Regions from separate parts of the Homo sapiens genome. Here regions 1 and 2 are each linked to region 3. The links come from fine-mapping of genetic effects on gene expression. A gene starts in region 3. Each other region holds a variant in brackets. All regions are shown on one strand. Distances are between the middles of the regions. Region 1 overlaps DOCK10 (dedicator of cytokinesis 10). Region 2 overlaps DOCK10 (dedicator of cytokinesis 10). Region 3 holds the start of DOCK10 (dedicator of cytokinesis 10).

The links.
Region 1: its variant is fine-mapped to the expression of DOCK10 in whole blood (TOPMed, PIP above 0.99).
Region 2: its variant is fine-mapped to the expression of DOCK10 in whole blood (INTERVAL, PIP above 0.99).

Annotation. Positions count from the first base shown.
Region 1 is chr2:224,763,183-224,767,524 of GRCh38, reverse strand. DOCK10 (dedicator of cytokinesis 10) reads left to right here. Exons shown (of 56, transcript NM_014689.3): 56 at 1,688-2,435. The coding sequence ends at 1,804. Among named protein-coding and RNA genes, the nearest start is that of CCDC195, 49 kb to the right of the region's middle. The variant T/C (reference allele first, on the strand shown) is at 1,891.
Region 2 is chr2:224,807,675-224,811,674 of GRCh38, reverse strand. DOCK10 (dedicator of cytokinesis 10) reads left to right here. Exons shown (of 56, transcript NM_014689.3): 32 at 3,589-3,764; 33 at 3,891-4,000. Among named protein-coding and RNA genes, the nearest start is that of CCDC195, 93 kb to the right of the region's middle. The variant G/TG (reference allele first, on the strand shown) is at 1,686.
Region 3 is chr2:225,040,931-225,045,266 of GRCh38, reverse strand. DOCK10 (dedicator of cytokinesis 10) reads left to right here and starts at 2,799. Exons shown (of 56, transcript NM_014689.3): 1 at 2,799-3,015. The coding sequence starts at 2,893. RefSeq lists silencers at 2,403-2,772, 2,963-3,202 and an enhancer at 3,753-4,092.

The DNA.
Region 1 (4,342 bases), 280 kb after region 3:
AAAACATAGAAGTTGTCTACATACTTCTTTAATCCCAGGGTTAGTTTTAAAAACTACATGAGGCCGGGTGCAGTGGCTCACACCTGTAATCCTAGCACTTTGGGAGGCCGAGGTGGGCAGATTGCCTGAGGTCAGGAGTTCGAGACCAGCCTGGCCAACATGGTGAAGTCCCATCTCTACTAAAAATACAAAAATTAGCTGGCTGTAATGGCAGGTGCCTGTAATCCCAGCTATTTGGGAGGCTGAGGCAGGAGAGTTGCTTGAATCCAGGAGGCGGAGGTTGCAGTGAGCTGATATCATGCCACTGCACTCCAACCTGGGTGACAAAGTGAGATTCCGTCTAAAAAAAAAACTACATGATTGCTGTTTTTTCAGATTATATCAGTGCTCCAAAGTGATCCCAGCCTACATTCAGGAATGGGTAAAGGCCCCATGATTAAAACTAAAAAATGTAGTTATGTTCGTCCTTCTGCTGTTTCAGCTACATATGCAATTCACTCCAAAAGTGTCTAGAAAAGTATTAGCTAGAGGAGTATTTTGAAGACATCTAGTTAATGAAGGAACCTTCAGTATAAGGAACGAGACAAGACAAGATAAAGTGGATGCTACTGTGTAAAATGGAGATGTTGAGGTAAAGTAGTTTGAGTTGTCACTGACCAGCAGGCAATAATTGCTTTTATAGGTGCCAAAATTCCATACTGTTTATAATAAATAGCAAAAAACATAAAAGCCTTCTTTGAAGCCAAAGTAATGCATATAAGCATTCAGTTTAAGCATCAGTATAAGATGCCCATTTGGAGTCTGTTTCAACATTCAGTAAGAATAACAGCATAGTGAAGTCAACTGTGATGATGGGTATCCAATACAAAATGCAGAGAAAGGAATGGACCCAATCTGGTGTGATACCAAGCATAGGTATACTGCACCTGGAGTCTACTCTTTGAACACATCATCAGCCAGATTATTCAGAGCTTTGTGATATTGATCATAAGGAGAATTTATTGGTAGTATAGGATGCTCTCAGCTGAGTGCTCTTTGGGGCACTTACAGAAGTAGCGATTCTATCTTGGAAGAGTAGAGATGAAGGTCATGGCACAGTGGGATAATGTGTGAAGTTAGTGGGAAAATCTTCACAATTCTTTGTACAGAAATCTCTTCTGTACAAAAATATATTTTAAAAGTGTCTGGAGTTTCTGTTGTTATTATGCTTACACGTCATTGTTTGAATCAATCTGATAAAGTATTTTTTAGGCACACTAACATTATTTTCAAGATTAAAATCAGGTCAAGACTTTTTTACTATATTTCCTTTTATGCAAACATTTAAATAAAATTTCTAATGTTTCCCTTTTTTGGCAGATGCTGACAATATAAATTATAAACTTTTAGAATAGAATAAAATCCTGGAATTACTCAGATATATTTGTAAGTTTCATCCAAACATTTATAAATTTATGTCAGATAGCAGAAGAGGATTGTGAAAATATTTTAACTTTCACCAAAAGTTAAAGCTAGCACGTGGTCTTGGGGGAAAATTCTTTAGATCCACTTTAATATGTGTCTTTTTATAATTTGAATAAATTACCCTGTGGGGAATGAAAACCTCTATTCTGGGTTTTAATTTTGTGTTTGGGATATTAACATTAACCTCTGCATTCTGTTGTGTTGTGTTTTTCCCTGTTTTAAGATTACGGGCAGGGACGACCTGTCAAAGCGCGGAGTGGACCAAACCTGCACTCGAGTAATTAGCAAAGCAACTCCGGCCCTACCCACGGTCTCCATCTCATCTAGTGCTGAAGTCTGAGGGCTCTGCAGCATCAGACCCACCTCTAAGAGAACTTTCTGAATTTGCAGCTAATCTCGGGGAAGAGAAAGATAGGTTTAATTTAT[T/C]TGAAGTTTTCATGGTGTTAATATTTTTGTTTACCTCGCTAGCTTCAGAATTTTGCCAACCTCTGAATTTGCACATTTTGTATAATTTTTTTTTCTTTGAGCAGTGTTGATCAAGCCAGGTTGAATATTTGCCATGAAATTCCAGTGAATGTGTAGCTCAAATGCAAACCCTAAGTTTGCTGTCAGTTATTGTATGGTCAGTACCCCAGTCCTAGTACACATATTTTAAAGGTTAAAGTGAATGTTTTTGTAACATTTAAGCATATTTCAGATGTAAATAAAAGATTGTAAAATATACGGTTTTTACCAAATTTAAAAGATCCTTTTTAGTTAATACTATGACAGTACTAAAAATATATGAATAACATTTCAGATACCATTATATTAAAATATTTGTGTATGTGTACAAAAGCGTTGATAAATACTAATCTTTAAAGTTTGTGGAGTTCCTTTATTTGTAATATATGTGCTCTTAAAAGCAATGGGATGTGAAATTATGAAAGTATTTTATTGTTCATAGAAATAAAAAACACAGTTACTTTGCATTTGGTTTCCTGTTGAAGAGTGGGTGAGTTACTGAGAAAAATGGTTCATTGAATATCTTCTGAATGCAAATCTATACTCAATACTTAGGATGCCTTGCCAAGAAACCAACAAAGGACTCAAATCTCAGCTAAGAAGTTCCTCCAAAGATGAACTGGGTAGATCAGAGGTTTCCAAATGTAGGAGAGACTTAGAATGACTTGGGGAAAATCTAATGAATCCGAATCTTGAGGTCTGTGGAGGTTCTCAGAGAGATCACAAATGTTCCATTTCTCTGCTCTAATCTTGTGGTAGGATTGCAGTTTCCTGCCTCTTTTGAAGGCAAGCATGACCATGTGACTTGCTATAACCACTGAAATGTAGGCAGAAGTAACATGTGTTACTTTCAGGCAGAGGCTTCAAAGCCAGTAAGTAGTTCTTCCCAGCCTCTTCCCCTGATGTACTTATCTTTGATGTACCTGAAGCCCTGATTTACTTACCTTTGACATATTGTTTCAGCCTCAGTACCCAGGAAACTACAATGAGCAAGACACACACACACACACTCCCTGCTAACGCTATTGGTCATATAGTCTTGAGTGAGAAATACCATTTTGCTGTGTTACGATTCAGGATTGTTTGCTACCACCATGTTATGAGCTTATCAGAGCAATGACCGATAGGTGCTGACCTACGTTTGGGAACCACTGACATTTTCCACTCTCTGGCCCACTTCCCTCCCCTAGTGAATACTGGCTGCCATGGACCCGAACTGAGCTGCTTCTAGGTGCAGAAGGCAAGCTAGAGAATCTAATTTCATACTCACCTTCAGCAGCCATTCCAAAGCCCCAGACATAAAAAAGGAGACTTCAGCTGAGCTCATCTTTCTGCTATGCAAGGCCATTGGCCATGTCAGTACATGATGGTGAGGAGGGAGGTAAGGGGTTGGAATACGTATTTACATTTTGAGTACACAGAAGGGATAGAAAGATATTTTGGGTGAGAACTCGGATCCCTCAAGACACTTTTTTTTTTTTTGAGACAGAGTCTCACTCTGTTGCCCAGGCTGGAGTGCAGTGCGCGATCTCGGCTCCCTGCAGCCTCCACCTCCCGGGTTCAAGTGATTCTCCTGTCTCAGCCTCCCGAGTAGCTGGGATTACTGGCACGCACCACCATGCCTGGCTAATTTTTGTATTTTTAGTAGAGACGGGGTTTCACCATGTTGGCCAGGATGGTCTCGATCTCCTGACCTCGTGATCTGCCTGCCTCAGCCTCCCAAAGTGCTGGGATTACAGGCATGAGCCACCACGCCTGGCCTCAAGACACATTTAACTATTCTTTTCTCAAATAGAGCTCACTTCTTTATAGAAAAGATTGCCCTTTGATGAGCTCTGGCCCAAAGCATTATTCCCAGCTTCATTCTGCCTCCAGTTCTCTTGGTTCCTGACTGTCTGGGTCAGCATCTCAGGTCTTTTCTTTTAATTTCCCCATGTGTAGCTTTAGGCCACCTTAGACATTACTATTCCAGGCACCCAGGAAGATGCTGCCTCCAATATCATCTCCCACCTAACTTCCACCTGTAGGCTCAAGTCCTCTTGCCCATGCCAATCCACCCATCTCCCATGCCCCCAGGACACGGTTGGCAATGGGTTACCTCCAAATCTGAAAATAAATCTTCCAAAAAAACTCTAAGGAAGTAATTGAAAATAATAGATCTTTGTGCTTGTGTTAGGTGCCAAATATTCTATTTTTGCATCACAAACCACAATATCTTTGATCATGTCACCGTTTTGCCCCTGACACTGTTCATAGAACAAGAAGTTTAAATACAGCTTCTCTAAAGAGAATCACCTAAGACCACTCTGCCTTAACAGCGTTGAAACTCACCCTGCACAATCCCAACACCTTTTATTTCTTCCTTTCTCTAGAC
Region 2 (4,000 bases), 230 kb after region 3:
CCTTACACCTTATACAAAAATCAATTCAAGATGGATTAAAGACTTACATGTTAGACCTGAAACCATAAAAACCCTAGAAGAAAACCTAGGCATTACCATTCAGGACATAGGCATGGGCAAGGACTTCATGTCTAAAACACCAAAAGCAATGGCAACAAAAGCCAAAATTGACAAATGGGATCTAATTAAACTAAAGAGCTTCTGCACAGCAAAAGAAACTACCATCAGAGTCAACAGGCAACCTACAAAATGGGAGAAAATTTTCACAACCTACTCATTTGACAAAGGGCTAATATCCAGAATCTACAATGAACTCAAACAAATTTACAAGAAAAAAACAAACAACCCCATCAAAAAGTGGGCAAAGCATATGAACAGACACTTCTCAAAAGAAGACATTTATGCAGCCAAAAAACACACGAAAAAATGCTCATCGTCACTGGCCATCAGAGAAATGCAGATCAAAACCACAATGAGATATCATCTCACACCAGCTAGAATGGCGATCATTAAAAAGTCAGGAAACAACAGGTGCTGGAGAGGATGTGGAGAAACAGGAACACTTTTACACTGTTGGTGGGAGTGTAAACTAGTTCAACCATTGTGGAAGTCAGTGTGGCGATTCCTCAGGGATCTCGAACTAGAAATACCATTTGACCCAGCCATCCCATTACTGGGTATATACCCAAAGGATTATAAATCATGCTGCTGTAAAGACACATGCACACGTATGTTTATTGCGGCACTATTCACAATAGCAAAGACTTGGAGCCAACCCAAATGTCCAACAATGATAGACTGGATTAAGAAAATGTGGCACATATACACCATGGAATACAATGCAGCCATAAAAAATGATGAGTTCACGTCCTTTGTAGGGACATGGATGAAACTGGAAACCATCATTCTCAGCAAACTATCGCAAGGACAAAAAACCAAACACTGCATGTTCTCACTCATAGGTGGAAATTGAACAATGAGAACACATGGACACAGGAAGGGGAACATCACACTCTGGGGACTGTTGTGGGGTGGGGGGAGGGGGGAGGGATAGCATTAGGAGATAAACCTAATGCTAAATGACGAGTTAATGGGTGCAGCACACCAACATGGCACATGTATACATATGTAACAAACCTGCACATTGTGCACATGTACCCTAAAACTTAAAGTATAATAATAATAAAATTTAAAAAAAGAAAAAAATAGATTTCAAATATACAATATTGTATTATTAACGATTCTTACTATGCTACGTATTTGACCTCCACAATTTATTCATCTTATAACTGAAAGTTTGTACCCTTTGACTAAAATCCACCTCCCATTTCTCCCATTCCCCAGCCCATGGCAGCCATCTTTCTACTCTGTGCTTCTATGAGGTTAACTTCTTTAATTTTTTTGCAGAAACTTAGAGGGGTACAAGTGTAATTTTGTTACATGCATAGATTGCATAGTGGTGAAGTTAAGGCTTTTAGGATATCCATCATCCAAATAATGTACATCGTACCTATCAAGTATTCTCTTATTGTCCACCAGAGTTTGATTTCTTTAGATTCCACATATTAACTGAGATCATGCAGTATTTGTCCTTCTGTGTTTGGCTTATTTCACTTAGCATAATGACTCTTAGGTTCACCTGTATTGTCACAAATGGTAGGATTTCTTTTTTTTTTTTTTTTTTT[G/TG]AGGCTGAATAATACTCCATCGTATGTATATACCATTTTTAATCCATTCATCTATAGATGGTCACCTAGGTTTCCATAGCTTAGCTATTGTGAATAATGCTGCAATGTATCTCTTCAACATAATGATCTGAATTCTTTTGGATGTATACCCAGAAGTTGGATTGCTAGATCATATGGTAGCTCTATTTTTACTTTTTTGAGGACCTTCTATACTGTTTCCTATAATGACCGTATTCCACCAACAGTGTACAAGGATTCCCTTTTCTTTACACCAATACTTGTTCTCATTTGACTTTCTGATAATAGCCATCCTAAAAACTATGAGGTAATAGTGCATTGTGGTTTTGATTTGCATTTCCCTGATGATCCGTGATATTGAACACTTTTTCTATATCTTTTGGCCATTTGTATGTCTTCTTTCAAAAAATGTCTATTCAGATCCTTTGCCCATTTTTAAAACTTGGCGGGTTGTTTTTGTTTGTTTGTTTGTTGCTATTATGTTGTATGAGTTCCTTGTAGAGTTTGGATATCAGCCCCCTGTCAGGTATATGGTTTGCAAGCATTTTCTCCCAATCTGTAGTTTGCTTTTTCATTTTGTTGATTGCTTCCTTTGCTGTCCAGAAACTTTTAAATTTGATATAATCCTACTTGTTTATTTTTGCTTTTATTGACTGTGTTTTTGGGGTGATATTCATAAAATCATTGTGAATGCCACTGTCAAAGAGCTTTCTCCCTATGTTTTCTTGTACGTGCAAGTACTACTATTAATGGTTACATTTTAAAAACCCTTTGGACAATTTGAATAAATCCATTATTACTGGAAATTTTTAACATTCTTTTCTCTGTAATTCAGGCTCAAAATTTGGCAGGGCCTTTTCTCTATAATTCAGGCTCAAAATTTGGCAGTGTCTTTTCTCTATAATTCAGGCTCAAAATTTGGCAGTGTCTTTTCCCTATAATTCAGGCTCAAAATTTGGCAGTGCCATTTCTCTCTCCTTGCTCCCTCAAATACTTCAGTCAACTTTTCCTAGTGAGTTACTCTTGTCACTCAGTTTCTGCTACCCCAGCCCAGATATCACGTTGTCACTTGCCCCCTCCCTCCCCCATTGCTACAATGTCCTGTATTGTATCCCTCACCCCACATCTCCCCACAGTCTAATTCATTTACACCCTGCCACACCATATTAATAAGTCAGTAAAGCATGAGCCTTATCAGGGCACTGATCTCAAAGCTATCGGTGTGTTAACATTCCTTACAGAATTAAATACAAATGGAGAGGGACCTAGATGGCAGCTAAGGAAATTGTACTGTTCTCCATCATCTAGCCCCAGCCTCTCAAGCCTAATTCTCTCACCATTCCTCTTTTAGCCACTGTGCTTATTGACTCCCACATACTCGTGCTCCCCTCCATACCTGCTCCCTTCCACACCTGCGCTTTCAGAATTCTGTGCCATCGAAAATCCAATCGCTTCTCCCAGCCTCCTGTCCTTTCTCCATTGCCTCTGTCTGTTCCCACAAAGATCTGCACCTCCAAACTTCAAGTATCCTCAAAGACTCATCTTGATGGATTCCTACTTATAACATATCCTGATTCCTCCAAGCAGAAAATGTGTTTTTCCCCCTCTCAAATCCTGTAATCCTGTAAATATGCTGTTATTATGGAATTCAAAAGTTGATGTTGTGTGTTAGTTTGTACCTGTATTTGTGTTTGTCTACACAGAATAGTCCCCTTACTGAATGCTCCTTGAGGATACAACACACCTCATTTCTGTAGCAAGACTGTATTCCTGAATCCCTCCTAGTGGTGGAAGAAGTTGATGGTAGTTGTTTGGTATATCTGTCTCAATTATAAAGTGATCATTTGATTTTCAATAACATGAGTTATTTTCCTTCCTCACAAAGATATGCCTGAATATTCAGTCACAAATGAATTTTGTCGCAAACACTTCTTAATCGGAATTCTGCTCCGAGAAGTTGGCTTTGCCCTGCAGGAAGACCAAGATGTCAGACACTTAGCTTTAGCTGTCCTAAAAAATCTAATGGCTAAGCATTCATTTGATGATCGATACAGAGAGCCAGTAAGTGATCTTCCTTTCTCCCTTCCCTAAACACCATTTAATGGCTCACTGCATTAAATGCATATGAAACCGACAAGCCTATTGATTTTTACATGAATCATTTCTTTTGGCTACCTTTTCTCCTAGAGAAAGCAGGCCCAGATAGCAAGTTTATACATGCCCCTGTACGGCATGCTCCTGGACAATATGCCAAGGATTTATCTGAAGGACCTGTATCCTTTTACTGTCAATACATC
Region 3 (4,336 bases):
AATAATAACAGGGTTCATATGAGAATCAAATATATGAAAAGACATGGAAGCTTGTTTAATTCCTGAGTTATCTGCAAGTGTAGGGATAATAACAGTTATTGAAGTCCATGTGCTAGTCACTTTTGAAGAAATTTACACTAATTTAAGTAACTCTCTCAGCAGCCCAGCCACACAACTACTATCTTGATTGCGTAGGTAAGAAACTGAGGCTTACGGAGTTGGGATTTGAACAAAGGTAATTGGACTTCAGAGCATGTATTTTAACCACTATTCTACAATATTACAAGCCCTTGAAGATTCTCTTATTAACTAGCTGTTCCAAGAAACTTAACATACTTCATGATATGTGCACAGATTTGCGTTTACCAAGCATCTGAGCCGAGTTTCTCCAGGGATCTGAGAGATGGGTGGCCAGCAGAGTCAAGGTCCCAAATCAGCAGACCTGAAGTTACATTTCTGTAGCAAAAAATAAGTGTATTTATGCTACAAGGGCAGGGGCAAGGGTCGACACTCAGCTCTCTCTCCTTGGTGCCCGAAGGAAGCTTAACTAAAACCTACATGATCATAAGGGCGGAGGAGAGTCTCTGAAGTATCATTATTGACATGCCCTGGGTGTGAGAGGTATGCTATCAACACTTAAACCTGCCTTCCTACTCGGTGTGACCCACGGAATTAACATCATACAGGGTATGGATTGGGCAAACAGGCATTTGTTCGTTAAACCCTCTCACACCAGTGCTCTGGGTGACCTCCTGAAGCTGGAAAAAGTACAATTAGGTGTATTAATTGTACGATTAACAAATTGTAAGTGACTTTCTGTTACTCGATATTGTTGGAGATTGGGTTGTGTGTGCTACTCAGTGTTTTGGATCAGCGAGTTGCCTTGTGCAGGGCACATTCTGATGTATTATCGATTACTATAGCCTTCCCTTTCAGCACACCTTTCTCTTCTCCTCTCTGACTTTCTCTGTGTCAGGCACACCCAGCTCTCTGACTGCACTAGCCCATCTGAGCCCTTTGTAAAGTCATCCATAAGCTGATATTTATTGAGTGCCTACGTGTGCCAGGCAGTGTTTTGAAACCAGAGACAAAGATTAGGTACCTCTTCTTGGGAAGCTCAAGTTAATTCAAATGTGCTTAATCGGTTCTCTCAGGGGAATATGCATTCAGAGACATCAAGTCTGGGTACACCTGGGAAAGGGTACGGTTGGAGGGAGCTGTTCCTACAGAGATCTTCATGTACCAACACAGAGGCAACCACCTACTTTGCTTACCCTGAAAGGTGGTGTTGCTCCCACACTGAGTACCAATATGAAAGCATACAATACAGGTACAGTTATTTGTTATGCAGGCTGTCTTGGAACTAGATGATGTTTCAAATGGCACTTCCCAAATCTGCCAGAGCCTCTTACCCTCTTACGCCTGTTATGATTTCTAGAATGTGCTGAAATGATCCCCAAACAGCATCTCTGGCTAATTGAATCCTGGCTAACAAAGAGCTGACTAAAGTGCATTTATCAATTGCTTAAGAATTCTTTATACCCAAATGTGACCTTGTGTTATAACTATCTATCATTGGCTTTAGAAAGTGGCAGGGTCATGGATCCATAAAAAGCTGTTAAGAAAAAACCAGACCACTTGGAAAGGCTGTCCCAGATCTCTCCAGACCAGTATCCAGGGGCCAGAACTTCTCTGCCCCCCATCCAGTCCAACACTGAATTGCAGAACCACCCTGGGTATGACCCAGGAAGAGACTTCTTAGAAGGCTTTCATCAGATACCTATCTAGAGGCAAAGTGCAGGCTAGATGGGTATGGGCAAGAGAAGAGCAGAGACAGCATAACTGTGAAATCCACCCCCGACCTGACCACCCTACATAGTAACCCTGCCAGTTGGTTCTTGCCTACTCATCCTAATGCCACCCAAAGTCTCTTACCCCCAGAACGCTGATTTATTGGTTTTGAGTTCGTGTTAGTAGCTTAAACTGTCTCCTTGATTTCTCTGTATTTGTTTATTTGTTCGCTTGGTTACTTGCTGTCTCCCACCCCTACCCCGAAAAAACCTATCAGCTCTACACAGCCTTAAAGTGTAGTTGCTAAGTTCCTCTCCGTATCCTCAGTTTCCAGAACAGTGTGAGCTGGCATATAGTAGGCGCTTAATAAATACTCATTGAAGGAGTGAATGAATGGGGAAGCTTATTCCAAGGCCCTGAACATGGACTTCTGGCAAGGGAGCCTTCCAAACGCTGGCTTGGGCGATGCTGCTGGGATCCCAGCCACCAGATCTTTAATAAGCCTCTGACCCCTTCCCGAGGGTGGAAGGGCGAACCGAGCTTGGCCCCCACCCACTAGCCGGACCCAGAAAATAGAAGTCTAAACGGCAAATGCATCCAGGGCTCCAACTCTCCCAGCAACCTCCAAATGAGGCTGACGGCCTTGGACAGGCGACGGCCTTGGACAGGCCCCGCCCGGAGCCCCTCGGCGGCCGCCCCCCGCCCTCCCCCGCAGCCTGCAGTTCCCCCGGGCGGCGTGGACAGCCCCGGCCGGCCAGCTGAGCCCGTGTGGGCGGCGCGGGCAGGAGCCGCCCCACACGCGTCCCGCGACGCCCGCTCCAGATGCGCCGCTGCAGGGCCCGGCCGCCAGCCGAGTTGGCCGCGCGCGCCCGGGGGAGCGCAGAGTTTGGAAAGTCTTCGAGAAGCTTCAGAGGAGGGAAGGGGGTGGGAAGAGTGGGGGTGCAAGAGAGAAAAACCCGCCTCTTGCGAGTTGAGCGAGGAAGAGGGGGGGGAAGGCTCCGAGTTCCGCTTCCTGAACGGCGGGTGGATAGAGAAGGTTGGCGCGGGGAAGACCGGCGGGAGGCGCGCCCCGGGCCCGCGGCGCGATTGGCGTGACCGGCGATGGCCGGTGAGCGGACCCGCAGGTTCACCCGGAGCCTGTTGAGACCTGGGCAGGCGGCCGAGCTCCGGCACAGCGCCGCGTCCGCCGCCGCGGTGGCAGTCAGCAGCCGGCAGCAGCAGCGGGTGAGTGCGGCGCGTCCTCCGCGCCTTCCCGCGCGCCCCAGGCGCCCGGGGGGAACGGAGCCCAGCTTCCCCAAAAGCTCGGCGGGCCCAGGTCCCCGCAGCTCACGGGTCCTCTCCTCCGCACTCCCTCCCCCGCCGCCTCTGCGGGCTCCCCCGGCGCCACCTCAGCGAGGCAGCGCCACCGACGCGTAAGGACCGGGGGCGCGTTTGTGCACGCGGGACGCTCAGAGGAGCAGCTGCGTGGGTAGCAGAAGCGCAGCGTGGGAGAGGATGTGCAGGGGCTTTAATGGGGCGCGAGGGGGCCGGAATGCACCGCCAGTCACACTGGTGCTAAGTGATACGAGTGCCAGAGACCCCGGGTGGGGTGGGGGGATCTACAGAACAGAACCCCTGAGTCCGGAGGTCTGCGCGTCCCTCTCACCCTCCAGTAAACAGACCAGTGCGCTGAGAGAGAGGGATGCAGTCCGTGGTCCTCGCCCTGGTTAGAGCTGGGGCCCCCCGACGTTAACTATCGCAGAAATAGATGTACTTGGAACAGCCCTCCCACCGCAGGGTAAAAACCCACAAACCACTTAATACTCCTCCAGAAAGGGCTGAGGAACACAGGCTGGAGGAGACGTGGGTCATTAGGTCTCCAGCGGTTTCTGATATTTTTCTAAGATGTTTCGCGGGGTTCTCCCACCAGCAATGCTTTACTGGTTACTTCCTTATTGAAACGGCTTCTAAGTGCTGGGTGATTTCCGCGGGAAGTCCCTGGGGCAGCAGCCAGCATCTGATGCTAGGATCCTATCCATACCAACCCAGATGTTCCTGCGTTGCAGTAGGTCCACACTGCCGGGGAGAGGTGGCAAGAGACAAATCAACTCTAGTGGAAACGGGAAGCGAGTGGGAACAACAGCCTCACAGCAAGACCGGGGCTCAGCAGCCGCGCTCTTGGCCTGCGTTTGGTGGACCGGAATCCGGGTTGTGTGTTTCATTTTCTTTTTTGCCAGAAAATATCATTAGGAACTAAACGGCTCTTTTTAAGAGTGTGAAAGTGTTACTCTTGCCAGTCACCAATGAGGAGGGCGCCAAAAGCTTCCCAGAGCCAGTTCCCACAGCCAGGACTATTCTCTAAAGCCAGAGGTCGGAAAGTTGAACAGAACGGAAGCAAATTGCCTGGCAGAGGGAAGAGGCATCGGGTGCCCAGGGGGTGTAGAGCGGGCGGGGGTGATTGGAGTGTGAAACGAATTGGTGGCCAGGGTGCCTTCTCTTGCACTTACACTAGCTGCAGTCCGCAGTTACCCAGAGGTGGTTCAACTGTTAGCTCACTCTGTGCCAG